7 separate regions of the Homo sapiens genome follow, and regions 2, 3, 4, 5, 6 and 7 are each reported to be linked to region 1. The links are microRNA targets in miRTarBase. Many come from high-throughput screens and were not tested one by one. Region 1 holds a microRNA gene; each other region holds the end of a gene's coding sequence.
Evidence for each region. Region 1 holds the annotated microRNA hsa-miR-4318 (CACUGUGGGUACAUGCU, at 1,518-1,534, shown strand). A microRNA usually pairs through its seed, bases 2 to 8, with sites in the 3' UTR of a target mRNA and lowers its output. Matches are read on the target gene's strand: a 7mer-m8 pairs with bases 2 to 8, a 7mer-A1 pairs with bases 2 to 7 and ends in A, and an 8mer does both.

Region 2: the mRNA of SRP9 is a reported target of hsa-miR-4318. The part of its 3' UTR that is shown has no 7-base or 8-base seed match.
Region 3: the mRNA of BRAP is a reported target of hsa-miR-4318. Seed matches in the 3' UTR shown: 7mer-m8 at 3,612-3,618.
Region 4: miRTarBase lists FAM163A as a target of hsa-miR-4318. Seed matches in the 3' UTR shown: 7mer-A1 at 2,724-2,730.
Region 5: miRTarBase lists TAF8 as a target of hsa-miR-4318. Seed matches in the 3' UTR shown: 7mer-m8 at 1,761-1,767.
Region 6: miRTarBase lists TRIP13 as a target of hsa-miR-4318. Seed matches in the 3' UTR shown: 7mer-A1 at 1,219-1,225.
Region 7: the mRNA of TXLNG is a reported target of hsa-miR-4318. Seed matches in the 3' UTR shown: 8mer at 1,448-1,455 and 7mer-m8 at 1,914-1,920.

Annotation. Positions count from the first base shown.
Region 1 is chr18:37,655,672-37,660,402 of GRCh38, forward strand. MIR4318 (microRNA 4318) reads left to right here and starts at 1,464; the gene lies at 1,464-1,544.
Region 2 is chr1:225,788,592-225,792,794 of GRCh38, reverse strand. It overlaps SRP9 (signal recognition particle 9), which reads right to left. Exons shown (of 3, transcript NM_003133.6): 3 at 2,331-3,555. The coding sequence ends at 3,436. Among named protein-coding and RNA genes, the nearest start is that of SRP9, 13 kb to the right of the region's middle.
Region 3 is chr12:111,640,469-111,645,199 of GRCh38, forward strand. BRAP (BRCA1 associated protein) reads right to left here. Exons shown (of 12, transcript NM_006768.5): 12 at 1,678-4,094. The coding sequence ends at 3,731. Among named protein-coding and RNA genes, the nearest start is that of BRAP, 43 kb to the right of the region's middle.
Region 4 is chr1:179,813,147-179,817,877 of GRCh38, reverse strand. FAM163A (family with sequence similarity 163 member A) reads right to left here. Exons shown (of 5, transcript NM_173509.3): 4 at 4,688-4,731; 5 at 1,680-4,099. The coding sequence ends at 3,689. It overlaps LOC105371634 (a long non-coding RNA gene), which reads left to right. Exons shown (of 5, transcript XR_007066756.1): 3 at 4-510; 4 at 1,351-2,979; 5 at 3,284-3,583. Among named protein-coding and RNA genes, the nearest start is that of MIR12116, 12 kb to the right of the region's middle. RefSeq lists a silencer at 4,559-4,731.
Region 5 is chr6:42,076,593-42,081,323 of GRCh38, reverse strand. TAF8 (TATA-box binding protein associated factor 8) reads right to left here. Exons shown (of 9, transcript NM_138572.3): 8 at 4,085-4,224; 9 at 1-3,791. The coding sequence ends at 3,779. Among named protein-coding and RNA genes, the nearest start is that of TAF8, 28 kb to the right of the region's middle.
Region 6 is chr5:916,717-919,716 of GRCh38, forward strand. It overlaps TRIP13 (thyroid hormone receptor interactor 13), which reads left to right. Exons shown (of 13, transcript NM_004237.4): 13 at 292-1,404. The coding sequence ends at 387. Among named protein-coding and RNA genes, the nearest start is that of TRIP13, 25 kb to the left of the region's middle. RefSeq lists enhancers at 78-647, 2,064-2,607, 2,608-3,000.
Region 7 is chrX:16,841,481-16,844,480 of GRCh38, forward strand. TXLNG (taxilin gamma) reads left to right here. Exons shown (of 10, transcript NM_018360.3): 10 at 1-3,000. The coding sequence ends at 286. RBBP7 (RB binding protein 7, chromatin remodeling factor) reads right to left here. Exons shown (of 12, transcript NM_002893.4): 12 at 2,861-3,000. Among named protein-coding and RNA genes, the nearest start is that of RBBP7, 27 kb to the right of the region's middle.

The DNA of each region.
Region 1 (4,731 bases):
CTGGACAATTTCTGATGCCTGAGAGTAGGGACCTGCATTTATCTTCTTATTTCTCCCCACAGGGCTGCCCCCAGAGGCTTCCCCTTCTCCTTCTCTCAACTCAGTCCTCCCTGCCTCCAGGGATTACTCAAATACTTTCCCAGGAAGCATCTGTGGGCTAATTCAACACAAGCTCATCTTCCCTGCTTCTGAAGTATGGCATTGGCAGTGTGAACTGATCACACAAAAGCCTGCATTGTTGTCTAATTTGTTCCCTGTGTTTCTTGTCCTTTCTTTGCTTGGGAGCTCTCCTAGGAATTTGCTCTTCCTTTGATCTCTGCCAGATCATCCAGCACAAGGTAGGGCACCTTTTATTTATAAGAAACTTCAATGAACAATCAACAGTACCCTAGGGCATCAAGATCAAAACTGATGATCACCTTTGGAGCCTGACTGGGAGAATTATATTGCTTCTGGCAGCAAGAGAAACCTCTGGATGAGAAGCTAGTTTTAGAGGAAGATGGTAACATTTTCAACACAAGGAGCTTGAGAAGTATGTAGAACATGCAGATGCAGAGTTCTACAACAAGATGGGAGCGGGGCCTGCCGATGCAGGACTCAGCATAGGGTGGAGATCTTCACTCCTATCAACACATATTCACTAAGCATAGCATTGGACCACTCTCAAAACAGTTGGGACCATGTATCAGGCATAAAAACTCTCCTCAGAGAGCAGCTAATCTCTGCAGAAGATGAGACATAGATGTGCTAAATAATAACCTAAGATACTTTAAGTAAAAGTACAAGAAAACAGAAGTGATGTGACTCCCAGTACATAATTAGTTGACATGTGAGAGATACAGTCGTTAAGTCCTATTTATTCCAAAGAAGGAGAAAACATTTTAGGCTGGGGAAATCCAAGTACAAGCTTGTGCTGAATCTTTAGGAATAGGAGAAAGGACGAGAAAATTCCAGATGGGTGTAATTCATTAGCAAAATGGAGAGGTGGGGGTGCGCAAGTCAACTTTGGATATATTCAGAAATCTCACAGATTCCAATCATCTGCAGTATAAGGCCATAGTTATCTATCTATCAAATTTTAACAAACTGTTTCGAAAACTGGTGTGGCGTTAAGGCACAGGTGCCTGGGTTATAAGCCTTTAGTCTGTCTCTACACCTGCTCCACCACTTACTAATGACCTTGAATAAGACACTTAATATTTCCAAGTCTCTATTTCCCATCTGTATGACCAATACCCTGTCTGTGTTAAAGGGCTTTTGTGGAGGTCCAGAGAAAACATCTGTGAAAGTCCCCAAAACGCAGCAGTTAGTGGATGTTGGTTATTATGATTTCCAACTTTCTTTGATACACACAGTGCCTTCTCTATTCTCTGAAGGCCTAAAGCCCCTATTCTTGTATCATACCTTCTTACCTACCTGTACCATCTGTTATTACCTCTTAATTCCTTCATGAGTTTGTAGGAGCTTCTTAATTATGTCATAAACCCACTGTGGACAAGGGCCTTGTCTTAGACAGTCACTGTGGGTACATGCTAGGTGCTCAAAAACTTGTTTCAATGATTGATTTCTATATTCATGAGGATCAAAATAATCCCAAAGGAAACAGATCTTGGGGTTGACATTGACAGATGGGTAAGTAATGACAGGTAATGTTCAAAGGACAGAATGCCTGGTGAGGGCAATGATGTGAGATTGTGGCAGATTTTTATTTTTACTTTTTACTTTTCTGAATGCCTAATTCCCCCAGAACATTCTACCAGGTTTTGAAGTTGTTTATCGCCCTGATACTTTGTGAGAAAATCAAATGAAACAAAAACCAAAGGAGAAAATATCCATCCAACAGCTGGACAGCTCAGTTATTTTTAGGGACGGGAAGAGAAGTCAGTGTTTGGGACTCAGCAAAACATCCCACTCTGTTTGGAGTTGACCAGCCCTTGGAAATGCATGGCTCTAAGCATTTTCTCAGCTGCAACTCTCCAGCACATGTGTATTTGAAGGGAAACTTAATCCATCTTTTTCTGGTTCACTTATACTGAAGTCATCAAAAAAGCTGTTGACATGTCCTTTGCATGGCCCTGTTCTCTGTGAGTTTTCAGGAAATACCAACATAATCTTGAGGTCTTTTTGGTATCCCAGGGTTCTTGGGTTTTGTCTTCACTGGGAACACAGGGAGAGTGGAGAATGCTTTGAACTAAAGTCATTCCAAATTTGCAAAGCTCTGCTCTTCCCTCCAGGAGTCTCAGTGGCTCCCAGAGTCTGAAAATCTTGGAAAAAGAACAAAGTTAGAAGCATCTTCGAGATCTTAGATCTCCTGTCCTTGTTCCTAGCAGAGACTGAGGGATGGCCCAGGAGAGGGAGAAAGTGTTTCAGAGGCAATTTGGCCAGGAGACTAAGTTCAGGACAAAGAGAGTTTTGATTCCAGACAGTGTGACCTTGAGCAAAAGCAGTTCTTTTTTTTAATTCTTCAATTCCCCCAAATGTGGTAGGAGAGCGATATTGCAATTCTTGATCTCCTAGATATGGCTTGTGTGGTTAATGTGTGGTTTGTGACTTTAAGAAACAAAAATATCACAGTAAGAAATTATTGTTTTCCAGATACACAGATGGAAGTCCTGATCCTTTTGGTGATGTGTCTTCTGGGTATCCCATCTCTAGCACTGGGTGTGGACAATACTGAATTGAGCTTACTTTTTAGGCTTAGTGAGAGGTCCAGCTTGGGTGTGTAGCCCAAGCCCTGAGTGATATTAACTGATCCATAAAGGGAATGAGTGTTTCATAGCTGAGTCCCCTAGCCTCTCAGCTCAGGATGCACATTTGGGCAGGCATGGAAGGAGATTTGTGTCCCGTCCTGCATAGACATAGCTAATACCTCAATAGAGGAGAAAAATGTGTACACTCTCCCTAAAATTAAAAGCTGAGAAGGAACTTGGGAACTCACCACCTCATTTTTATTTTAAATATGGGGAAAATTAGACTGCAAGAGGTAAGATAATGTGCTTATCACTTACTGAATATTGATTTTGTGCCAGCCCTATGCCTAAGTGTGATCATATTTAGCAGCACTGGATGGATGATATTATTACCCTCATTTTGCAGATGAAGCAACTGGGGTGCAAAAGAGGGTGATAGCTGGTTCAAAGTCACTCAATGAGCATGTTGTGAACTAGAATTTGAATTCAGCTCTGCCATACTTCAAAGATCAACTGACATACAGAGCTAGCTAGTGAGGGACCAGAACACACAGAGTCCTGGATGTCTCAGCCAGGGAGTATTTCAAGATGTAGACATTGGGTTGTACCTGCAGCACGTATACTCTTTTATCTACAGCACCTGCCACTGTCTGGTCCACCATCAAGTTAGCTGCCTGGGGAAGAAACCTCCACTGCAGAGGTAGAGAGGGTGATGAGAGGCTTTGAGAGGTGGAGGTGGAGCTGAATCTCCCATCTTAGGGAAATGTGCAGGGGTAGCCCCTGTGGGTAGTCTTCCAAGACTCCAACATGCCCATCATGGGAGAGCAAGTAAGCTGAGGTTTAGAAGCCAGCAGACAGTAATGGTAAGTGAATTCAAGGAAGAACCACCCCAGTACCATATCTGTAAAAGATATTTGTCACTTTCCATCTTGGTATCTACCCTTTTTTGTCATAACATACTAAAGAGTGGGGGAGTAGGAGGTATCCTAAGAGTAACAGAGCTCCCTCTCTCATCTCTTTGTCCTTTGAGCCATGGCCTGGCCAATGCTGGGGAGGGGAGGAAATGACACTTATATTGGATATACCATGGAGTTCTAAGTAAGCCTCCATTCATTTGTACTTTTTAGTATTTGGAAGTGATTAGACAGCAATGAGATGTGCGTAGGTCATCATTAAGGATGGAAAAGGGAATTTAACAGGACCTGTTTGAAAACAGGGATTGGAGAAAAAGCAAATCATTTCATGTCTGTGCCCTGTGAGTTCTGGATGCTTAATGGACAGATTATCTTTCTGTTTTTCAATCCATCTGTCATATGGAGGGAATATAAAAATGGAACGTGTCCTTAGATAAGATTCTTCTCTTCCTCCTCTCCTCTTGAGCACATTTTGCTTGTGTCTGCACTCTCTGGTTTTGGCCAGAAGAAAAAGCCCAAGACACTAAGACATTGCCACATTGGCTATTATTTCCAGATGAACTACTCAGTACCAGAATGGCTAGACATGGAGGAAGTGGAAGAGAGAGAGAGGAAGAGAGGGAGGGAGACTGTCCTCACAAATGTCAGGGAGAGAAAGGGACAAGACAGAGTATGAGGGACAGAGGGAGTGGGAAGTGCTGCAAAGGGAAGAGAAGGTGGGGGTGGGGGGAAAGAGCCTGGAGAGAGGAAGGCAGTGGGGGAGGGAGGGAGGAGGGCAGAGTGAAAAGAGTGAAAGGGTGAGAAGGGGGTTTTGGGGTCAGAGCCAGAGCAGCTTCCTGCCAGGCCTGCTGCCCAGCAAGCTGCTGGAACATCTGCATCCTGGTGGGGGTGTTTCCAAATGGAGCTGCCTCTTCCTCTGACTTCTTCCATATGCATCTGTGTGCCTGCCCAGTTAGGCCTTTCCCAAAGTGCTTGCTTTCCCCTTACTAATCAGCCACTTGTGCCCAAACAGCTAACTCAGCTCTGGACATGGTCAATCCTGGGTTCAGCCAGGAGAAGAAGCGTTGCTATTGGGCATCACAACTCCAGGCTCAGGAGGAGCAGACAGCTGTACTAATGCTCCCCTG
Region 2 (4,203 bases), not on the chromosome of region 1:
AATTCGAATGCATTGTGATTGAAATACCTCTGATTTTTACATTACTCCTCATCTGTATAATGAAACAGAGCATGAGTGGGAAAAAGTTGAGACATTTAAAAGGTCATACTGGAGCCGGGCACGGTGGCTCACACCTGTAATCCCAGCACTTTGGGAGGCCGAGGTGGGCGGATCACGAGGTCAGGAGATCGAGACCATCCTGGCTAACACAGTGAAACCCCGCCTCTACAAAAAATACAAAAAATTAGCCGGGCGTGGTGGCGGGCGCCTGTAGTCCCAGCTACTCAGAAGGCTGAGGCAGGAGAATGGCGTGAACCCAGGAGGCGGAGCTTGCAGTGAGCCGAGATCGCGCCACTGCACTCCAGCCTGGGCGACAGAGCGAGACTCCGCCTCAAAAAACAAACAAACAAACAAAAAGGTCATACTGGAAATTTATCTTTGGATATTGCAAAACTGAAGGAACAAGTATTTCAAGCCTCTCAGGCACATCTGACACTAATGCCAGGAAGTGAAGTGCTTGAAGGAGCTGCAGATGGATTAGCAGCTATTAACCTGCTAAAATCGATCAAGACACTTGGAGGCTCTGTGATTTCAATAATGATTGTGCTTTTAATCTGTGTTGTTTGTCTTTATACAGCCTGCAGATGTGGAAGCTGCCTCTGGAGAGAAAGCCACCGCCAAGAACAAGCAATGATAACTATGGCGGTTTTGCAAACAAGGAAAGGGAGACATGTTGGTAGAAGAGCTGAGGCAGGACTGGCTTGTCTGTCATAATGTAAGTCTTGAAAGATGTCCGGGGTCCAGGTTCTAAAACCCCTCGTGGCCTTTGGAACACCAAGCTCTGTGCCAAAGGGTGGAAGGCTGCCCTGCCGCACCACAATCTAAGCCCAGGGCATAGAACCCCTTGTGGCTTGGATGGAACCCAGGGCTCAGGGCCTAAGACCCCTTGTAGCCTCTGGAATGTGCACAGACTTGGTTCCTTGCTTCTTACTTGTAAACATGTCCTCCATTAACTCAAGCAGCAGAGCATATTCTATATACATCAAACGAAATGCTAAACCATCACAGCTACGCTTATGTACCACTACCTTTCTACCCCACATCCTCACGCCCTCACCTGTTTACCCTCACGTCCTTACCACCTGCTTCTTTGTTTGATCACCAATAAATAGTGTGGGCTCCCAGAGCTTGGGGCCTTCACAGCCTCCAATCTGGCACTGGCCCTCTGGACCCACTTTATGCACTTTTTTTTTTTTGAGGCCCAGTCTTACTCTGTCACCCAGGCTGGAGTGCAGTGGTGCGATCTCTGCTCACTGCAAGCTCTGCCTCCCGGGTTCACACCATTCTCCTGCCTCAGCCTCCCAAGTAGCTGGGTCTACAGGCGCCCGCCACCACACCCAACTAATTTTTTTCGTATTTTTAGTAGAGACGGGGTTTCACGGTGTTAGGATGGTCTCAACCTCCTGACCTTGTGATCCGCCCGCCTCGGCCTCCCAAAGCGCTGGGATTACGGGCGTGAGCTACCGTGCCTGGCCCACTTTATGCACTCGTCTTTTCTCATTCCTTTGACCCTGCTGGACTTTGTAGCCCCCATGGCCTGGTGTTGGGCCTGATCACCCCAACAGTGTGCCACTGTGTCCAGCTCATTTTTGTATTTGTAGCAGAGATGGGGTTTCACCTTGTTGGCCAGGCTGGTTTCAAACTCCTGGCCTCAAATGAACCGCCCACCTCAGCCTCGCAAAGTGCTGGGATTACAGGCATGAGCCACTGTGCCCAGCCTTGGATCATGATGTTTAATCTTAACAGTCTTACAAGCAAAGTACTATTGTTGGCCCCATTTCCAGAGATGAAAATGAAGGCTTAGAAAAGTATCTAGTCTAAGACCACAGAGTTAGGAAATAGTGGAGCCAGGATTTAAAGCCAGGCAGTCTGACTTGGAATGTCTGTTCTTAACCACTCTGTTACACGCTACCAGGACTCAAAGAACCCAAATGCCAGTCTCTCCTTTTCAGGTCATCTCTGTAGTGTTAAATAAGGGGGAAAAAGGTCAAGCCTCTCCCCTCCCCTGATGGTGATCCCATTAATTCTGGGGGAAAAAAAAACAAAAAGCCAAAATAATCCTATACTATTTGATGTTACTTTTCTAATTCAAGAAAACAAACTTGCTATTAACATATAGTGCAGAGAAAGTCATATAATATAAAGTACTGAGAAACAAAAAATTTGCTTTCAGCATTACTAGGCTCATTTTGGACTAAATGAATATAGTATATCCCAGCTCAGAAATCAACAATTTCTGAAAAGTTAAAAACTTCAACACAAACAATATATATTTTATCTAATATTTTATTTACTGATCTCTCTGAAACATGCCAAAATTCATATAGCTAAGGGAACTTACCATGCTAAAATGCTGTTCAACATGACAAATTTATACAAAACATATTTCAATGTAGTGCCTTCATTTCATTCTTGAGGAATCAACATTACATTTAGGTGGTGAAATACAAATATAATTATCAAATATCGTACTTCTAGTTTACTGGAAAACATAACAGTTGTGACAGTCACACCTAACACCTTGGTTAATTAAAGACAGAAAATGGGCAGGGGTGTCACAGAAGTATGCAAGGATTTGACAGTTCAAACTAATCCATAGCCCTTCTGAGAAACTACAGATGGAAAATATGTAGTAAATATTTCTGTAATATGGTGGTTTCAGTACATTATAGCACAGTGATCATCATTCCATTCATACACTCAAATAACTGCTGCTTCTGATCACTGAAAACTAGATTCAAAGTCATTGCTCAACAAGCTGATACTACAAATCCCTTATATTAACAGGTAGTTTAAATGTGGAAATAAGGCAAAGCATACTTGTTAGTCACAATTACTTTCAGATATAATTGAGACTACACTGCTATACATAATTAGGTACACAGTATGTATAACAATGCATACTATGGTGTGGAGTTAATTCCAATTACCATATTTTATATTTATTGGTCACAACAGCATACATTTTATGCTCCAAAATACATGGATCTGACAAAATGGTTACATTTAATGTTCTTTTAAAGAAAGATGAACTAAATTTAAGAAGAATTGGTTTTTCCTAATATCTCATTTTCAAATTACTGATACAAATTTGCCAGAGAAACAATTACATGTTTTACCTAACATCAAATAATCTCCAGTTTCTAAGACAGATGCATTTCTTGTTCAATTTCCAAAAGTAAATAAAGGCTTTCTAACTGAAAACATTTGCATCCCTAGCTCTCTAAAGTAATTAAAAAGAAAATTACAAAAAATGACCTCTAAGCTTCTGAACAGCCCACTTAGTTACATAAAGTACTTTCTGTCCCAACACTTTCTCTAATTCAAAAGATATTTACTTCCTAAGTACACGACAAAGTCTTCATTTCAAACCATTCACTCAGTTTCCATGGTAACATTGCGGGCTTCCTTGGCTACCATAAGTCGCATTAGTTGACTGTGGAATTTCTCAATCTTCTTTACATCTTGAGCTTGGTCTGTTTTATACACCAAACACTGTCAGAAATTTTAGAAGTACATATTAACTATATAAAACTAGATACTGACAATGTAGAAAACATACAATTGGGTAAAATTTTGAGAGTTTTTCCTACCACTGTTTTGCTCTATTCTCCTTGGAGGTCGTACTAGGGAAATTGCACTCAAGTTTCCAAGCCTCCAGCAATTCCATGTCTTAAAGTACAGTAATTTAAATGCCACTGCTGTGGACAAAAAACTGAATGAAGTCTATTAGAAGCTTCTGAAAAATGTTAAATGTTAAATCCTGCTATGGTCTGATGAGAAGAACTCAAGACTTAGAATTAGATATTTTCTTCCTTCGAATTAGGTATTAGATTATCTCCCTACATATTTTCTCCCAGCCATAAGTAACTGAGTTATGCTGGAAAAAAAAACACAGAAATCTTAAGATCTCTTTTTCTACTGGTGAAATTGGGGGTTTGATAATAATTTTTAGAAAAAAATCTAGAATTCTCTGTGTATAGCTGGTCAACACATAAACCAGGTAAATCTTGATTTTCTTGGCCAGGCGTGGTGGCTTACGCCTGTAATCCCAGCACTCTGGGAGGCCGAGGCAGGCGGACCACCAGGTCAGCAGTTCGAAACCAGCCTGGCCAATATGGTGAAACCCCGTCTCTACTAAAA
Region 3 (4,731 bases), not on the chromosome of region 1:
AATTTCCCTTCTGCTGCCAAGAGAAGTGATGCAGCAGAGTCACTATGCAGCAGTTAATTCAGCTTTATCCTGGAGAAAATAAGAGTGACTTTTTCCTTTTTTAGATAAGCCCATGGCATCGCACAAGCCAAAATATGCCACCAGCCCAAGCAACGTGGCATCATGCATGGCAGCCAAATCTCATGGATGGTATTTGTAGCTTGTGGAGCCTGACTGTACTAGGAGAGGGGTTTCTAAACGATGACAGAAGGTTGTTCATTCGTGATTTGCCAAGTTCTCCACACTCTACTAGCTGGCTGTGGAAATCAGTTTCTCAGCCCTTTTGAGGAGGACAACTTTGCCATGCAAGCAGAGAGTGGGTAGTTGCTTCAGTGTTTATATATTGATCAATATATTCTAGCAAGTCACATTTATGACGGTTTCCCACCAAGAACAAACCCCCCCACCAAAACAATCTCAGCTTAGTGGGAAATAGTCTCAGGTGTAAAAATTGCTTTTAGTGGCTGGGTGCGGTGACTCACAACTGTAATCCCAGCACTTTGGGAGGCTGAGGCGGGTGGATCACTTGAGGTCAAGAGTTCGAGACCAGCCTCGCCAACATGACAAAACCCCATCTCTACTAAAAATACAAAAAATTAGCTGGGCATGGTGGCACATGCTATAAGCGCAGCTACTCGGGAGGCTGAGGCAGGAGAATCGCTTGAACCCAGCGGGTGGAGGTTGCAGTGAGCCAAGGTGGAGCCACTGCACTCCAGCCTGGGAGACAGAACAAGACTGTCTCAAAAAAAATAAAAAATAAAAAAATGTGCTTTTAGTTTGCAAGAGTTGTGTGCCTAGGACTTCCCTTGCCCAGTTCAGCTACTTTTCACTAGTTTGGGAACCTGGAAGAAGGGAGTGGAAAGATGAATAATCTAGATGCTCACTATATTGTTGAGGGTTTTTTTTTTTTTTTTTTTTTGAGACAAGGTCTGTTGCCCAGGCTGGAGTACAGTGGTATAATCACAGCTCACTGCAGTCTCGAACTCCTGGGTTCAAGCGATCCTCCCACCTCAGCCTCCCAAATAGCTGGGACTACAGGTGTGCAAGACCATGCCCGGCTAATCAAAAACTTTTATTATTATTATTTTTTTTGGTAGAGATTGGGTCTGGCCATGTTGCCCAGGCTGGTCTTGAACTCCTGACCTCAAGCATTCCTCCCACCTCAGCCTCCCAAAGTGGTGGGATTACAGATGTGAGCCACCGCACCCAACCAAGGGGCTGATTTTTACGTTGCTTTTTAAATCAAGGCCACTTTTTTTTTTTTTTTTTTTTTTTGAGATGGAGTCTCGCTCTGTCACCCAGGCTGAAGTGCAGTGGTGCAATCTCGGCTCACTGCAAGCTCTGCCTCCCGGGTTCATGCCATTCTCCTGCCTCAGCCTCCCAAGTAGCTGGAACTACAGGTGCCTGCCACCATGCCCAGCTAATTTTTTTTTTTGTATTTTTAGTGGGGACGGAGTTTCACCATGTTAGCCAGGATGGTCTCGATCTCCTGACCTCATGATCCGCCCGTCTCAGCCTCCCAAAGTGCTGGGATTACAGGCGCTGAGCCACTGTGCCCAGCCGACACTTTCTTAGATTATTAGAGACATGCTCCCAAGCAAATGTCAGTCAGAGACACACATTTCACACGGGGCAGAATAATTTCAAAGTTTGGCTATTTTAATTCAATTTCATTGTTCAAGGTAGTATGGGTATATTAAGTGGTTCATTTCCCTCCTGAAGAAAACAACTTCTGTCTGATGTGATTTTGTGAAATTCAAACATGACTCTTTGACTGTTTAAAAAAAAATTTTTTTTTCTTTACGTATCTTGGTAAGATTTTTTTTTTTTCTGGGACATATTTTTTGTAAACCTCCAAGTAGTTTGGAAACACTTGCCTATTTGCTCATTCCTCTGGGCACAGCCTTTCAGAGCATTTATCCCACCTGTACTGAAAAATCTGTTTTCCCAGGTGGTGGTGGGGCCACTGGATAGAAGGGATCACAGAGAAATGAGGAGTGAGCGAGCTTTGTAAACTACTTCTAATTCTCTTCATTAGTATGCTATGATCCACCCCAGCTTCTGCAAGGTCAGACATGCAAGACAAGTACTTGGCCAAAACAGCAGGATTCTAACTAGTGTAAAAATAGATTTTAAATAAAATAGAATCTCTATAGGAAAGAGAATTAGGTTATGCTTTACATTCCCACTCTTAAGATATCTGTATATATAAGTCCAAGAGAGACTCAAAGAGTTGGTCTGCCCTAAGTAAAAATTAAGAATGTCTGAGTACATTCATTTTGCAACATTACACGTAAAGTTTTTTGGGAAATGCTGCAGCACATCCCACAAAAACAGATGGTGATTAGTGATACAGTTGATGTGCTAACAAGTAACATGTAAGACATTTAGGTCAAAGGGGATGAGGCCTAATTACAGGCTAAAAACCTATTCTGAAATGTGATCATTTGAAAACCTGTGGCTAATTATAAAGCAAAAACTAAAACCTGTTGTTTAACAATACATCTTACTAACCTATCCCTCTACCTCTTCAAGAAACTAAATTCCAACACAGGTCTTATTTTAAGTTTGCTCAATTACTGCAGGTTATAAATTATTTGACATTTATGGTTCCAGAGAGAGTACACAGCCCCTCTGTTGGCCCACACAAGCGTTATATGACTGTTCTAAAGGGGGCTCTGTTGAAATTCTAATTTTAGGATTTAGAAACAGCTTTTGGTTATATCTTGAAAGCGTAATTGAAAATCTGCCCAAGCTCCCTCTAGCTGCAACCTGAACATGCAGCCCAATATTTTGTAAACATTTAGAAAATACTAAACCCAACAAAATACACAATTAGCTAGTCAGAGGCCTCACTCTACATTTTCACACGGATGAGAAATCTCCCCACTCAGTCTTGCTAGATGCTAGGATACCCACTCTGAGATTTGAGTTTGGGAACAGCCATTAAGCCTCCTCCTTAATTGCGGTTCATAATGATGTACGAAGTCACCAAAAATAAACAGTGGAGCTGCCACCATTTTTCCTACACTGAGTCTACCCAATGTGCCCCGGGTTGTTTGTTTTTCCTGGCTGGCCCCAGAGCAAGAAGAGATGACTGCTGGTAAAGAGCCAGGGCCTGGTTTACTACCAGGCCTCTTTTCAGATAACATTCAAGCAATTCTTCCACTCCCCAGAGGAAGGGGGAGATGATAATGATATGACACTATTGCTAGGGAGTTTTCATAACTCCTTAATAGCCAATGGAAACCTCTCTTTAAAGCAGCTGTTATGCCCTCAGAGAGGTTTGGTGCTTTAGTGCTAGATAACCTTACCTTTGAGGTTACAAGAAATAACTTAACATCTTAAACCTACCCCAGAACTGAATGTCAAATACGCCAACTCCATAAATACAATGGAAAAATGCACAGCAGAGTTGGGGCTTCTACCAAGCAGGAAGGCAAAATGGTCATTAGAATGTGAGGTTAGTGAACTCTTAAGACCTTTTCGAACGCAGCGCCTTTCTATCAGCTCTCCAGTCAGCACCCTTTACATTCACTACATCACACACTAGCAAATGAAAGAGCCAAACAACTGTGGCTTGATCCTCACTTGTACTTATTAGGGCCCACCCTCACATTTAGCTGAAGGTCCCAGCACACTCTCACAGTGTCAGGGAGAACAGTCTCAGGGATGTCTGTTGCTCTGAAGGTCACTTGCCCCTCTTGCTGCGGCCCTTCCTGGAGGGCAACTTCCCACTGCCCCCCGAAGAGGCAGGGCTCGAGGCCGAGGCCATGGCGATGTTGATCTGTCCCTCCTGGATTTCCTGCCGGGTCTCGGCAGGCAGATGGTTGATCTTCTGCTGTGTCTCCAGGTAGAACATGACGTCACGCAGCTGCTCCTGGATCTCGGTGATCTGCAGATCTTTTTGGTCACAGGTCTCCTTCAGCACCCTCTCCTCCTCTTTTAGCTTGTTCTGCAGGAGGACTTGGTTGGCTCGCAAACACTTGTTCATTTCCTGCTCCTCTTTGAGCTCGTTGGTGAGTTTGGCCACTTTTGTGTTTAGCTGAGTGCACCTTTTGAAAAACAAAGGAAGACAAAAGCACATTTTTCATTTGCTGACACAGTCCCCTTTCTGCTCTGGGATTGAACAGAGAAACCATGACCTCAGAATCCCTTTAGGACAGACCCCTTTCTCCCATCGTGAGGGAGAATGGTTTTCTGCCATCGCAATCAGCTATGCAAAGCAAGAATTTTGCTCTACTTAACACAAGTGTATTTTTTTTTGAGACGGAGTTTCGCTCTTGTTGCCCAGGCTGGAATGCAATGGCACGATCTCAGCTCACTGCAACCTCCACCTCCTGGGTTCAAGCGATTCTCCTGCCTCAGCCTCCCAAGTAGCTGGGATTACAGGCACCTGCCACTATGCCTGGCTAATTTTTGTATTTTGAGTAGATATTGGGGTTCGGCATGTTGGCCAGGCTGGTCTTGAACTCCCAACCTCAGGTGATCCACCTGTCTCGGCCTTCCAAAGTACTGGGATTACAGGCATGAGGCACTGCGCCAGTCCACAAGTGTATTATTTATTTATTTATTTTTTGAGATGGAGTCTCACTCTGTTGCCCAGGCTGGAATGCAGTGGCGTGATCTTGGCTCACTGCAACCTCTGCCGCTTGGGTTCAAGCGATTCTCCTGCCTCAGCCTCCTAAGTAG
Region 4 (4,731 bases), not on the chromosome of region 1:
TAGAACAGCTGTGGTGACAGAGCTGTGGCCAACTGCTCCCTGGGCCGAGGGTGAAGGAAGCTGTGCTCCCACTGGTGCTAGGGAAGGCTGCTGCAGGGCTGGAGGCCTGGGTGCTGGACTGCTGGGGCAGGCTGCCTGCTGTACCCCCAAGCTGCAGTCAGGGCTCGCCCTGAGGCCCTGAGGTGGAGAGAGAGCAGCTGTCTCGTACACACCCATGTGCACAAGTGCAGGCACACACACACACACACACACACACACAAAAGACGTTCTCACTTCATCCCCGAATTCTCCCTCCTACACACAAAGCTAGTTCCCAGTTCTCCAGTCCCCCTCCATCCCTCTCCACTTCTGTAGTCTCTGCTGGGCTGCACTGGGGATCTGGTCCCAATTCCCCTCTCTTCCCTTGCTGCCCCTGTAACAAAGGGCTGGCCATGTGACATGATCTCCTCAGGCTTCAGAGAAGTGATTTTACCCTGAGCTACACAGGCAGGAAGACCACCAGCCTGGAAGGTGTGTGTGCAGGGTTGGGAAGAGGGGAAGGGCAGGTAGCAGGGGCCGAGGCCTGGGTTGCCCCACAGGGAAACTCACTATCCTCAGCAGGGCCCTTCAGCCACTTTCCCAACAAACAGCAAATCTCCGCCGATTGAACTCTGACTGAGGCAATGGGGGCATGCCAGGCAACAAGGTGGAGGTTTGCTACCGTGGGAGCAGGGAGAGCGTGGAACACAGACGCTCTGGGTGTTGAAGAGGAGGCTTCACCCTTAAATCCACACCAACAGCCCCCTTCACTTCCCCCGGTGAAGAACGAAGGACCCTGTGGGATTTCTACTTCAAATCTCTCATTTATTCCGACATCCACTCGGTTATGACTCCAAGTTATCAAAGATGCAAGACAAGAAGTCTAGAGCAGGAGTGGTGAAGTGGAGGTGGAGAAAGACGGCGGAGAGGGCTGTGTTCCTGGCCCCTCCTTCTCTTCCAATTTAGGGCACCGTTTGAAAAGTGTACAAGTAGTGTCCCTTAGCACAGACTAGACAGCAGAAAAGGACAGTGCAGTTGAGTGGGGGAAGCTTCCTTTTCCACAGGGTGGGGCCCTGCGGCTGCAGCGGGCAGGCAGGCAATCTCGAGCCTGGTTGGAGACCGTGCCCTGAGCAGCGTGGGCTATGTGGGGAAGAGCTGGGGCCCACCATCTCTCCAGCACCCCAAACCCAGATTCTGATTTGTGGGGCTAGCAGGGCTTAGCTAGGAAAGCGGTAGGAGGGAGGGGATTGCACAGGACGCTTGTACTCAGGGACCCCATCAATCAGGGGCAAGAAGTGGGTGATGGTTAACTGGGTCTTGATTTTTACAAAGGCAGGACGTACGAATGATGTTATTTCTGGCAAGGAGGACACGGCTGCTGTGGTTGATTGGCTGTGGAATTCCAGGGGAGCAAGGCACTAGGAAGTGGGGAACGCTGCCAGGCCCAGCAGCTCATCAGGAGCTTGCACTTGGCCCAGTTAGGGCTGGCCGTGGGACGGGCTTGTTGAAGCTGCTGCCGCCATAAGCTGCCCCTCTGCACCAGGAGACAGATCCCATTACCCCACCTACAGCTGCTTCCTGGTACAAGAGAAGAGTTACCATTTGAAATGACTCCACAGGAGAGTCTGACAAACATGTTTGCTTTTCACTGACAATTAAAATTGTTTTGCTGCTAATCTTGTTTTATTGTGGTCTTTCATCCATCAGCAAGCATCCCTGCACGCAAGATCAGAGTTGGGTAAATACATCCAGACCCTGCCAGGATTAGGGCAAGAGGGAGTGCTCTGGGCCGGCAGATCTTTTTCGGAAATTCTCACTTCTTGGAGCACTAAAGGGTTGTTAGTCTATCTGGGCAAGCCTCGTTTCCCTGGAGAAAATGGAGTCTCAGAGATTAGTGACTGGTCCTAGAGCTAATGAGTGACCAAAGTGTGACCAGAGCCCAGGTCTGCTTCTCAACCCAGGGCACTTTGATTCCAGATTGAGATGTAAGGTGACAGGTGCCTTAATAGTGGCGCAAAAGATGTGCATTCCCCTCTTCCTCCCTCCCCGCTCCCTGCTCCCCCAGCGGCACCCTGACCTTCCTCAAATGCAGAATCAAGATTTCAGCAGGGGGGCCAGCCCTTTCCCTGCCCCACCCTCCTCGAATTCAGTGACTCAGGAGTGGGAAGGGGGTTAGCTATGCCCTTAGAAGGGGGCCAGCTTCTGCAGAGGCCACTGGAAAACTCATCAGGATTCTCACTCACAAAGCCACTGCCACATTCTAAGTAGGAAGTCGGAGTTGGAAATGAGGCTGGTGTGAGACACAATAAATGGCTCATCGCCAGGAAACTGGGGAGTAGGGCGGCCAAGGGAGGGCGGCGAGCGTGGAATCCCAAGGCTAAGTCACGTCCCTCCCATCCTCAGGACTGGGCTGTTGCTCTGGTGAGATGAATGAAGATCCTGCTCCACGGCGTCACAGGTGGATGCTTACATAGAATGCCGGGCTCTGGGGGACTTGACGTGGTTTCAGCCGCTGCAGCATCGCCCCACAGAGATTCTGTGCTCTTCCTGTTCACCAGCCCGCTGTCTGCCATGGGGATTGGTCACGTGTTAACCACCTTTCGTTCAAGCTGTTTCGGGATCAGACTTTTCCTTCTCTGGTACATGGGAGACCTTTCCTCTCTGCAGCTCCTGAATGTACAAAGCCCCTGGTGCCTACCCGTGGTTACTGTGTGTGTGTGTGTGTGTGTGTGTGTGTGTGTGTGTCTGTGCGCGCGCGCGCGCGTGCGTACACCTGGGAACGGTTATGCACACCCTCACAGGACTGCATCCACACAAGCTACTCGGCGTGGTGGGCTGGGCCGAGAGACAGTCAGCTGGTCTCTTTGCTAAGCTACCAGAAGTCGGCTAACAAAATGAAAAAACTTCTCCAGCAGGGGGCGCTGGTTCCTAAGTCAGAGAAAGGATTTCGGGGAACACAAGGTTAGACACTTTCTGGTGCAGTCCCCACAAGCCACCTTAGGCTTTAAAGTCAACTTGACACGTCCCACGAGGAAGGGGGCAGGTGAGATGTGATACGTTCAGGAATCAACGACCCTACGGGAGCAGCTACAGTGACAGCAGTAGCTATGGTAACCAACGTACAAAGCTGGGCTGTGAACTAGCTGTTGGAGTCGTTTCAGCAAGCGCGTCCTGAAGCAGTGCCGTTGACGCCCCGCCCCTCGCTTCTCCAATGCTGGAATTGTAGCTCTCACTTCTCTCCTTGCCCTCTGTCCCCTTTTCCTAGGCACGGATGCTTCATCTCCCGAGGACCCGGGAGGCCTCCTGAGCCTTTGCTGAGCTTTCCCTGGTGCTCCTTTTTGCAGTCCAGCGAATCCAGGGGACTGGGGCACACTGCAAGGGGTTGTGGTGGTGCTGGGGCTGCCAGAGGAGTGTCCCAACCAAGAAACTGGCGAAGCTGCAGACTCGACCTAGCAGTCCCCCACCTCTGGCCCACAGAGTTGGAGCCAGGCCCTGTCTTGGTTCTCAATGCACTCAAAAGCTTAAATCCTAGTAAACCCTCCACTGCGGAGCGAGAAAAGCCAAAGAAACAGAAACAACCCATGTGGGGCTGTTGGAGGGTCATTCATCACCCCCATGGCCCCCGCCAGGGCAGCAGTGTGGGTGTGTGTGCGGGTCGGGGTGGAAGGATTTACACGTCTGTACTAATAGCCCTTGGATTGGTGAAGGCCTCACGCCCAGAGCCTGGCCAGGTCACCGGGTAACTCTGGGGTGCTGCCAATTTGAGGGATGGGGGTCCCCCCTCTTTGTAGTATGTGGGAGCAAAGGAGAGCCTCTCGCCTCCACCCCCATTGGGCACCATGTCAGCCGTCCGTATGTAAAAGGGGGAGCTGTATGGGGAGCAGGTAGTGCAGTGGCTCGCGGCCACCCCACAGGGCTGGCTGCAGGGCTCGCTGGTGAGAGGCGCCAGGCTGCCTCTGCCGTCCAGGGCTTGGGAGCTGCAGGCATTGCAGGTGGGGCCTCTGGGATGCGTGGGAAGGTCGTGCTCCCGCTCCTCCTCCTCGTCTGCAACCTCGGTTCCGCTCTTCTTGCAGCAGTAATACTGTGCGGAAGGGCAGAGGGATGCCTGAGAGGGTGAATGCTCCCCCCGCCCCATGCATTTTTGAGCGTGCACAGGTGCCCCTGTCCCCTGCTCCATGGAGAACCTAGTGCCAGGCACTGAACCCCAGGGGCCTGCTCCACAAGTTTCTAATCCCAGCTTTGCAAGGCCAGTACTGCTTTCCTTTTCCCCTCCCACCACTCCTCGCAGTAACTCCAGGCTGTAGTTGAGCGGGGCAGGGACACACACATCATATTGAGGACAGGGCTGGAGCTGCTGGCGGCAGCTTTCAGAGCCTCCCCAGAATGGTGCTCTTCCCATGCTCCTGAAATCTCAGAGGTGCAGGAGACACAACCCAATGACCCCGTATCTTTCCAGCACACTTTCTGTGTGCTCTGAGTGGGCAGGCTGGGGGGCACTTAGCTCCCTTCCGACCAGCCCCAACTCCCATCCTCCTTGACTTACGCCTGCTACATTCCATAGCTTTGGGCTCTGTGGGCCCTGAAGTCGGCCTCCAGTTTCTGCCCCCATAATGAAAAAGAGGTTTGCTGGTGGCCTGGCAGCCTCTGGCTACGGGTCCCGGGGACTGACCTGGAGCCTGCAGTAGCACAGGACGGCAATGATGCAGAGGAGGA
Region 5 (4,731 bases), not on the chromosome of region 1:
ATACCTATAATCCCAGCTACTCAGGAAGCTGAGGCAGTAGAATCATTTGAACCCGGGAGGCAGAAGTTGCAGTGGGCCAAGATTGCACCATTGCACTCCAGCGCGAAACTCTGTCTCACACGCACACACACGCACACACACACACACACACACTCCAGGAGGAAAGAAAATAAAGGACAAAAAGTGGGAGAAACAGATGAAACAGAATCAACAAGCTACTGACAAGTGTGGAAGCTTGATGAGGCATATACAGGGGTTCATATATTTTGCTCTCTAATTTTGTATTTGAAAATTTCCAAAATAAAAGTTTTACTAAGTTCCCAGGTGTGCTTAGGCCAACACAAGGGCTAAGCCTGACTTATTTGTCCACATTGCTGTTAACTTTTGAACACAAATTAAGTTCAAAGCTTACAGTTCTATTTATTTACAAAGTTTTTATTATGAATTTTTATTGAGATTTTCATAAACATTTTTAATCTGCATGTTTACTACTTTTGGCCTCTAAGAAGTCCCATAAAGTTATAAAAAATAGAAATTTATAAATACACATTGAGAATTTTGCATTTTTATACAGGGTCAATGTTTCAAGTTGTCTAACCCTTTCCCTGTCTCCCCTCAGAACAAAATTATAAGAGTATAGCCTCTGAGGCCAGGCGCGGTGGCTCATGCCTGTAATCCCACCCACACTGGGAGGCCGAGGTGGGTGGATCATCTGAGGTCAGGTGTTCGAGACCACCCTGGCCAACCTGGTGAAACCCCGTCTCTACCAAAAATACAAAAAAAATTAGCCGAGAATTGTGGTAGGTGCCTGTAATCCCAGCTACTCAGGAGGCTGAGGCAGGAGAATCCCTTGAACCCAGGAGGTGGAGGTTGCAGTGAGCCGAGATCACGCCATTGCACTCCAGCCTGGGCGATAAGAGTGAGATGCCGTCTCAAAAAAAAAAAAAAAAGAAAAGAAAAAAAAAGAGTATAGCCTCTGAAATCTCAACAGCAGAAATAGCAGCCCTTTTCCAAATCCCACCTCTAACTCAGCACATCTGCATTCAACAGGTGCTTACACTGGATAACAACAACAAATGGAAGCTGCAGAAACACTGACTGGGACAACACCTCCCAAGAGCAGTGAGAACAGCTGGGATTGGCCACGGCTTGAATGTGGGGCTGTGTTCATAAACTTATCAGGCCAAGAATCGCTAAGAACTGAATCACAAACCCTGAGAAGGCCACATAGGCCAGTCTAACTGCTTCGATCTAGGAGAGTTTCACGTTACTACAAACCTGAAAAACTCCTATTTAGTCCAGTTGGGGAATCCAATTTTTTTTTTTTTACTAGCGTCCCCTCTTCCGTTCCTGACAAGCAGCTCTTTCCTTACACAGTACAGTGAGGCCAGAAGAACATGGAGCCTGCTGTCAAGTCCCCAAGTTTTTCAAGTTTCCAAATTCACCAAGGGAATGGAAGACTAAGAGATGGGCTGGGCACCGTGGCTCACGCCTGTAATCTCAACACTTTGGAAGGCCAAGGCGGGTGGATCACTTGAGGCCAGGAGTTCAAGACCAGCCTGGGCAACATAGCAAAATCCCGTGTCTACTAAAAAAAAAAAAAAAAAATTAGCCAGATGTGGTGGCGGGCATCTGTAATCCCAGCTACTCTGAGAATTGCTTGAACCCGGGGAGTGGAGGTTGCAGTGAGCCGAGGTAGTGCCACTATACTCCAGCTGGGGCGACACAGCGAGACCCTGTCTCAAAATAAAAGGAGTTGAACTGTGGAAGCCAAAGGGGAATACATGAAGCTAAATATGGACGTTAGGATTCTAATTTGGGAAACAAGCTTATTCATCCAGTGTTCACTTCCACGTGTTGTTACATTTTTCTTCCTTGGATTTAGTTTTAAAAACTCTTCCTTAGGAGACCAGAAAAGCTATCAGCATGCCCAGCATCTTCCTTAAAAACTTGTTTTCTGGTTTGTAGGGTATGTTAAGAATGAAGTTGTTCTCCCCACAGGATACAAATTGGTTGGACAGACTCAGACCTGCTTCTTGCAGAACGCCTCAGCTTGGCTCACTCCTGCCCATCCACCAGCCTTCCAGCTGACCAGCCGTTTCTCAGCTTTCAGAATACAAGATGAGGCCCAGCCCTCAACACCCCACCCTCACCCCACCAAATCCTTTCCTATTGTTTACTTTATCCTTTTTTTATTTTTTTGAAATGGAGTCTCGCTCTGTCACCCAGGCTGGAGTGCAGTGGCACGATCTCGGCTCACTGCAACCTCCGCCTCCCAGGTTCAAGTGATTCTCCTGCCTCAGCCTCCCGAGTAGCTGGGATTACAGGCATGAGTAACCACACCCGGCTAATTTTTGTATTTTTAGTAGAGACGGGGTTTCACTATGTTGGCCAGGCTGGTCTCGAACTCCTGACCTCAAGTGATCCACCTGCCTTCGCCTCCCGAAGTGCTGGGATTACAGGCGTGAGCCACTGCGCGTAGCCCCTCTTTCCTACTGTTTAAACCCCATGGCTCCTCTGTCAAGTCCCAGCATAATAGAGCCGACGCTCTAGGCTCTTGTCAGAGAAAACCTCTTCTTCCAGAAGGGGTAAGACTTGGCAGTTCCCAAGCACACATTCCTCACAGGGGCAATAAATGGTAAATCTCTCAGGAGGAGAGTGCTGCCCCGCTTCAGGGAGCTTTCGTCAAATGCCGACGGGAGGACAGGTGCAGCCCCGACATGTCGTTCTTCTTCACAGTGATGCATCTGCTCAAGACTCCTGACTCCTGCCCACCCCAAACAAAGCTGTGCTGTGTGGCCTCCTGTTTCCGACACGTTGAGGGAGTACAAAGAACTTTTCATCAGCTCAACGGAGCACTTGGGAGGCCAGATGAGGAGAGAAATAAGAATGAAGTTCTGGGATGAGAAAGTGGTGCCACAAATTGTGAGTCAATAAAAGGGATCCAGATATCCTGAAATACACGCTGGACAAACAGTCTTCCTTGTAATAAGCACAGCAGCAAAGAGCCCTTTCCTTCCTGTCACTTTCCCTGGTCTCTTGAGTTTCAAAGGAATCAAATCCTGTGATAATGAACGAAGTCACTGGCTGCTGCTATGCCCCACCACATAGCCTGATTGATTAAGAAAGTCTCTGGTGGGGTGCGGTGGCTCACGCCTGTAATCTCAGCACTTTGGGAGGCCGAGGCGGGTTATCACTTGAGGTCAGGAGTTCAAGACCAGCCTGGCCAACATGGCGAAACCTTATCTCTATTAAAAATACAAAAATTAGCTGGGCGTGGTGGCTCACACCTGTAATCGCAACTCTTTGGGAGGCCAATGCGGGTGGATCACTTGAGGTCAGGAGTTCAAGACCAGCCTGGCCAACATGGCGAAACCCTATCTCTACTCAAAATACAAAAATTAGCCAGCATGGTGGCGCTTGCCTCTAGTCCCAGCTACTCGGGAGGCCAAGGCAGGAGAATCACTTGGACCCAGGGTTGCTGAGACTGCAGTGAGCTGAGATCACACCACTGCATTCCAGCCTGGGTGATAGAGTAAGACTCCATCTCAAAATAAAAAAAAAAATTCTCATTATTCTGTTCATATCTTCCTCAACCCAAACATCCAGTGAAAATAGGTCATCTTAATAAGACGGTTTGCCATGAAAATCATGTCCGATCACACCCTGCAGCCTCGGCTTGGCCATGAGGAGGTCACCCTCTTCTTCCCTTGAGTGGCTTTAACTCCCCGGGAGGGTGGAATCTGCGCCCCTGTACAAGCCAGGTTTCCTTCTCAGCTCAGGAGAGGGACCTAGAAAGAAGAGGAACCATGGAGCCTCCTGGTGTGGGCCCTGTCTGCTCTCCTTCTAGGGGAAAACTGCTCCAGTGCTGTGAGGGTTGGTCCCTAGACTGCAGGACACTCAACCACTAAGGAACAAGAGCTATGTACGGGAGCCAAGTAAGGACAGGAAAAGGGAGACTATTCCCTCTCACCAGAGTGGCTTTCCCCAAGGCTCCGCCCCACTGAGGAGACTCTTCCAAGAAGCAGAGAAGACCACCTCGGTGGGACAGTGAAGGCTCTCTGGACCCCAGCCTCCAACTCACTTCTTCCTGCGGATCTTGGGCTTCTTCACCGGCCGCAGATAAGGGTTATCGATGATGTTCTCCTCCCCATTCCGGCTACCCGACAAGGAGGGGTTCTGCTGCAGGACAGAGGTGTTCTCCTTCTCGGCTCCAGAATCCTCCTTTGAGCAAAAGCCAAAATAAAGCACAACATCAACAGCATAAGGAAAGAGATCATGCCTATAATTGGAATGACCATTAGCATCCTCTAATTGAGAAATTAGAACCTGGGAAGCACCTTCTTTCCAACATTCCTATCTCTGCCCCGATGAAGCGAGGACCAGGCAGGGGCTGGCTATGAAGGGAAGGCAAGACTAACAGCCTTGACCCAAGAGAGCACACAACAGAGTCCAGAGTTTTGAACCTCTGGAGAAGGCAGGGACAGGGGTTAGAAAGAACAGACACCTGGGAGGGACAGGAATCAAATTCAGATGCCTCAGGGAGGATGCCCGGCCAGGTGGGGAGATGAAGAAGAAAAGTGATCCTGGATGCCCTGCATGACTGGGAGATACAGGATCAGAACACATCATCTGCATAGCGCATCTCCTGGCCAAGCTAGATAGACTAAGTCAGAACAGATTTCTCCCTCAAATCCTCACATTTCTGGTACTTGCAACATGGTACCAACA
Region 6 (3,000 bases), not on the chromosome of region 1:
AGTGTGTGGGTGGCTGCCTTGGTGCTCCCCTGCCCACCCCCGCAGCTGTTTCTGACATTCAGGACATGGCGGGGGCGGGGGTCACGTAGCCACCTTGTTCGCCTTTTCTGAAGTAAAGAGCTTGGCTGATGTGCGTCCTGGACGTGTGTGGTGCGCACTCACTGCTCACCTTATCAGCTACCACCCCCTTCTGTGCTATCTGCACTGTGGGTGGCGGCAGGGGCTGTGGATGCCAGATGGCCCCACCAAACGTGAGTTGAGCCCCTCCAGCAATGACCGTGTACCTTCTAGGCCCCCACCGTCACCATAGAGGGGTTCCTCCAGGCCCTGTCTCTGGCAGTGGACAAGCAGTTTGAAGAGAGAAAGAAGCTTGCAGCTTACATCTGATCCTGGGCTTCCCCATCTGGTGCTTTTCCCATGGAGAACACACAACCAGTAAGTGAGGTTGCCCCACACAGCCGTCTCCCAGGGAATCCCTTCTGCAAACCAAACGTTACTTAGACTGCAAGCTAGAAAGCCACCAAGGCCAGGCTTTGTTAAAAGAAGTGTATTCTATTTATGTTGTTTTAAAATGCATACTGAGAGACAAACATCTTGTCATTTTCACTGTTTGTAAAAGATAATTCAGATTGTTTGTCTCCTTGTGAAGAACCATCGAAACCTGTTTGTTCCCAGCCCACCCCCAGTGGATGGGATGCATAATGCCAGCAAGTTTTGTTTAACAGCAAAAAAGGAAGATTAATGCAGGTGTTATAGAAGCCAGAAGAGAAACTGTGTCACCCTAAAGAAGCATATAATCATAGCATTAAAAATGCACACATTACTCCAGGTGGAAGGTGGCAATTGCTTTCTGATATCAGCTCGTTTGATTTAGTGCAAAAATGTTTTCAAGACTATTTAATGGATGTAAAAAAGCCTATTTCTACATTATACCAACTGAGAAAAAAATGGTCGGTAAAGTGTTCTTTCATAATAAATAATCAGACATGGTCCCATTTGCAGGAAAAGTGCAGACTCTGAGTGTTCCAGGGAAACACATGCTGGACATCCCTTGTAACCCGGTATGGGCGCCCCTGCATTGCTGGGATGTTTCTGCCCACGGTTTTGTTTGTGCAATAACGTTATCACATTTCTAATGAGGATTCACATTAATATAATATAAAATAAATAGGTCAGTTACTGGTCTCTTTCTCCGAATGTTATGTTTTGCTTTTATCTCACAGTAAAATAAATATAATTAATGGTTTGCATGTGAAATTCACTTTTGAAAGAACATGTTACCTTACCTTTTGTTTTAGAAGTTTTCAAGTATTAAAATATTTTTTAGAATTTTCTTGTTTTGATTCTAAGTATCTCTTCCAAGTGCTTTTAATTTTACTAAAAATTACTCACATGATTACTTAACTTTAAGCCTGATTTATGGTGTGGGGACCTTATGGTGTAACTGCATCATCCAGAAGAAATTGGGAAGGTGCCAGTGGCCCAGGTGCAGATTCAGGAGGTAGATCACCAAGGCCAAGGCATATGCAGGTTCTGGTCACCGTGTCGTCTGCTGGGCCTTAACTCTAGATTCAGAACCCGGAGCCACTCCTGCCGTGGAAAGCAGAGCCTGGCTCTGGGGGTGGCAGGTTGAGGAGTGGGCCCAGTCCATGCATGTCAGTGCTGTTAAAGGATCTTTTCACCAGTGGGCACAACCCTAACAGCTCCCCCACCTCCACTCTCCAGGAGTCAGCTTGGGGTCCACAGTGGCTTGCGGCCCTTGTACTCACAAGTTCTTCAAGAAACAATTTGAGCTTTTTAAAACAGTTGGGGGTGGGGTATAGTGAATAAGGCAAAAGACTCATCTGAGAGTAAAGGCAGTGTATTAGGGTTCTCTAGAGGGACAGAACTAATGGAATAGATAGATACATATATAAAGGGGAGTTTATTAAGTATTAACTCACATGATCACAAGGTCCCACAGTAGGCCATCGCAAGCTTCAGCAAGGAGAGCCACTCCGAGTCCCAAAACTGAAGAACTTGGAGTCCGATATTTGAGGGCAGGAAGCATCCAGCACAGGAGAAAGATGTAGGCTGGGAGGTTAGGCCCGTCTCGCCTTTTCACATTGTTCTCCCTGCTTATATTGTAGCCTCACTGGCAGCTGATTAGATGGTGCCCACCCAGGTTAAGGGTGGGTCTGCCTTTACCAGCCCAGTGACTCAAATGTTAATCTCCTTTGACAACACCCTCACAGACACACCCAGGATCAATACTTTGTATCCTTCAATCTGATTAAGTTGACACTCAGTATTAACCATCACAGGCAGACGCATGTCTAGAAGACAAAAGGTACAATATTCTTGCTGCCGAAGAAAAGAAAAAATTGCCAAACCTGAATTGCTGTGAAGGACATAGCTTGGAAGGCATGACAGAAGGTTCCCTGCAGTTATGGAGGATGAGTATGGGTGAGGTGCTGTGGACCCCAGCTCCAGTATCACTGGGCAAGTCTTGACAGGACACCAAGGTCATGGAGGTCAGCCTTGTGGAGCCCATGCTGCACTCAGATGAGATCTGTGGGTCCAAACAGCTCAGGCCATCTGAGTTTGTCCTGTTTGATTTGCTTGTTATATAAAATCAATCAATCAAAAGATAGATGAGTGATAAACGTGCCATTTCATTTACACCACTTCTGAAACCACACTTGAATTCTGGAGGCCGCTGGCTCGTGCGTCTCAGGCAGGCCCACTGGATGTGGTGGGACTCGGCAGTGGCAGGGACTTCTCATGGACTCATTGCAGGTGTCAAGTTCCTGAAAATAAGATACCTGTGGTAGAGAAACCAGGCTGTGTCCTTGAAGTCCCTTCAGGCTATTAACCGAGTGGGAATTCAGGGAATTTCACATGTCAACAGTAGGATGATTGTTGTGTTTAACTGCATGACCTCTGCAAAATGGGGATTAAGAGATCAACTGATAACAAAGTACTTGCCCAAGTTCAGAGACCTACCGCAGCACAACCTTA
Region 7 (3,000 bases), not on the chromosome of region 1:
AGAGAAGCTGTGCAGGGCTCTTCAGACAGAAAGGAATGAGCTCAATGAGAAGGTGGAAGTCCTGAAAGAGCAGGTATCCATCAAAGCGGCCATCAAAGCGGCGAACAGGGATTTAGCAACACCTGTGATGCAGCCCTGTACTGCCCTGGATTCTCACAAGGAGCTGAACACTTCCTCGAAAAGAGCCCTGGGAGCGCACCTGGAGGCTGAGCCCAAGAGTCAGAGAAGCGCTGTGCAAAAGCCCCCGTCCACAGGCTCTGCTCCGGCCATCGAGTCGGTTGACTAAGATGAGGTGTGATCACTGTATTGAGAGATATATTTTGTGTATAACTTTCTCTGTTAGTAGTTAACTATTGGTTTTGTGGTGAAAATTTTCTTACTTTTTCTACCATATCTGTATTTTCTTAGAACTACTGGACTTATGTGGTACAGGAGGCTGCTTAGCAGTTTTGAATAGTTTAATCTATAAATTTTCCTCAGCTGTGTTGCACATCAGCCTCGTTCTCCCTCCACTGGAATGCATGTGTTCATTGCCTTGTCCTTTCTCTCCCTGCTCCTTGCACATTATCATCCTAATGAAAATTTCACTGACAGGGCCGACCATTACAAGGGAACTTTGTTCTGACGATGGTTCCTTGATGTGAAAACAATATTAATTTAAACGTCTTAGCCCCCCCCCCCATAATATTATTCAGAAAAACAAAATACCAAGGCGATTAGTTTTGTCTAATAACCCATTTAAATGCCAAGTAAAAATAAAACTCCTAGTGTTGGGTCAGAAGCATATTTGATTGAAATTAGCTTTTTGAAAACATTTATATCTCGGGACAAATTGAGATGGCCACATGCCTAGAATCCTAAGTTTCGGCAGAATATGTATATAAAGATGTCACTTGTGGACAAAATAGTACATAGAGGCAAATCACTAGACAAATAAGCTTAGTGTTTACGTGACTGAACAGTCATCCTGCTTTGGTTTCAGGTGTGGGATTTGGACCATGAGGGGCTCCCGTAGAGGATGGCGGTTTGTGTTTGATTCTGATTTGGGATTTCAGTACATATTCTCCACTTCCCATAGAAGGCCACTTATTCTTTGAAAACTGGTGTTCATGTTTGCCGTTCAATGAAGTCCCTTGTCAAAGACAAGGACGGTCAATTCACGTGTCACTTTCACTAGGCAGAAGTTTCTCCAATACCTTCTGGCTACTTGAAAGTTACTACAAAAATTCCACCAGCAAAGTACTCCAGGTTTTTCAAAAGGGAATTTTCATTATGGATCAGTACCAACCGAAATTGATTTTCATTTCCAAAACAAACACTGGCACCAACATTTTTACTTTGGGAAGACTTGGCAGAGTGTTAGTCATGATCTGTTACTTACGTGTTCAGTCTGTTTTCTCACCCCCTTCTTAGTTACCATCTCTTTTTTAAGAAGAAAAAAGAAAAGCCACAGTATTATCAAGGTCTCTACACTTGGACTGGGGGAAAATTTGAAATTAAGCACATAACTTTTGAATTAGTTCTTTGTTTCAATGTTGAATGTGGCGCAGTTATGCAGATGATTAATCAGGCTGCACTGATGGAAGTTTTGACTTTGTCCCTGGTATAATTTGCATTGAAATGCTTTATGAAATAAAAGGTTCTACTAGAACTGATGTTAGCACATTCCACTGAGCAAAACTATCAGACTGACACTTGTTAAATTGCTTACTGGACTGAATAAACTCTGTTTTGTCCAGTTAAAAGGGTTTTCTCTTTGTTACAAGTGTTATTTGTAAAGTCCTGTCACATTCATGGTCGAAACTGGGTTGAAAGAATTGAAAATTGTCCAACAGATAGATAGATAGGAAACCGCCTGGAGTGGAGGAGGGTTGTATCTAAGCCTCCACTATCAGTCATGTTAATTCAAGGGGCCACAGTGGAGGAAAATAAATCCACAAAGTAGATTATCTAATTACCATCAAAATGAGTCAGAAGCAAAAAACACCACCCTCCAACAGCCTCTTAGGAGTACACCCTGTTCTGCTACTAAAATACTAGACTCATTTCCCTGGTGGTGGGGGGGAATGCAGGTATAGATCAGAAATATAATCCACCTTAAAATTAGTACTAATGATCACATTATTTCACAAGAACTCTGCTGGATGTACAGCTCTTAACATTTTATTAAGCCATTTGTGTAGCCCACCACGTTTCTTTGTGGTGCTTGTCCTGTGTGGAAGATTGTAAATCTTGGGCCTGTTGCATACTTCCAAGGGCTTTAAAGCAATGTGATTAACAGTACTTGGCCTGCTGCTTTTGGCTTACTTTGTATTTTTAGCTAGATGCTATTATAGTGTTGAAAGGATATGGATTCTGTCTGGGATGCATTTGTTGTCCTTTCAGAACCCTTCCTCCCATTACCCTGTGAATAAAAACAAATGGGACCCCCTGAGAAGGACATCTTCCTACAGTGATCACCTCACCAGCCCAGTGTTGTGGCTTTGTAGCGCACCCCGTATCTACCATATTCTAGAACACTGTAATGCTACTAGGCTGGCCCAGAAAAGGTTTAAATGTTGAATTCACTTAAATTGCAATTGTTGCACCATCATGGAATCGTGATGTGTATTATTTATATTGGCGGTGGACTCCAAGGTGTAGAGAAAACTTGGGTCTTGGGTAATATGGACCATTTCATCCTCAGACTTGTTAGGAGTACATTTCTTGGTCTTGAGACCAGTATTTTTCAGTTATGTATGCAACTGCCTTTATTACACCTGGTTATCACAATTCAATTCTCAGGTGTTGCAGAAAAATCTACCTCTTTCAGACTGTAGATGGAAATAACTGTGAAAAAAATGATGCAGATATCTTCTAGTTTGTGCTAAACACACTGCTTTATTTTTACAGCCCACGTCTTTCATGAGGATACGAATTGTTAAGAGGCAGTCTCGTTTTGCTTTTCAAAGACATTTTGTAGAGATTTTTCACTAATGTGAATCTGATTTTATCTACTTG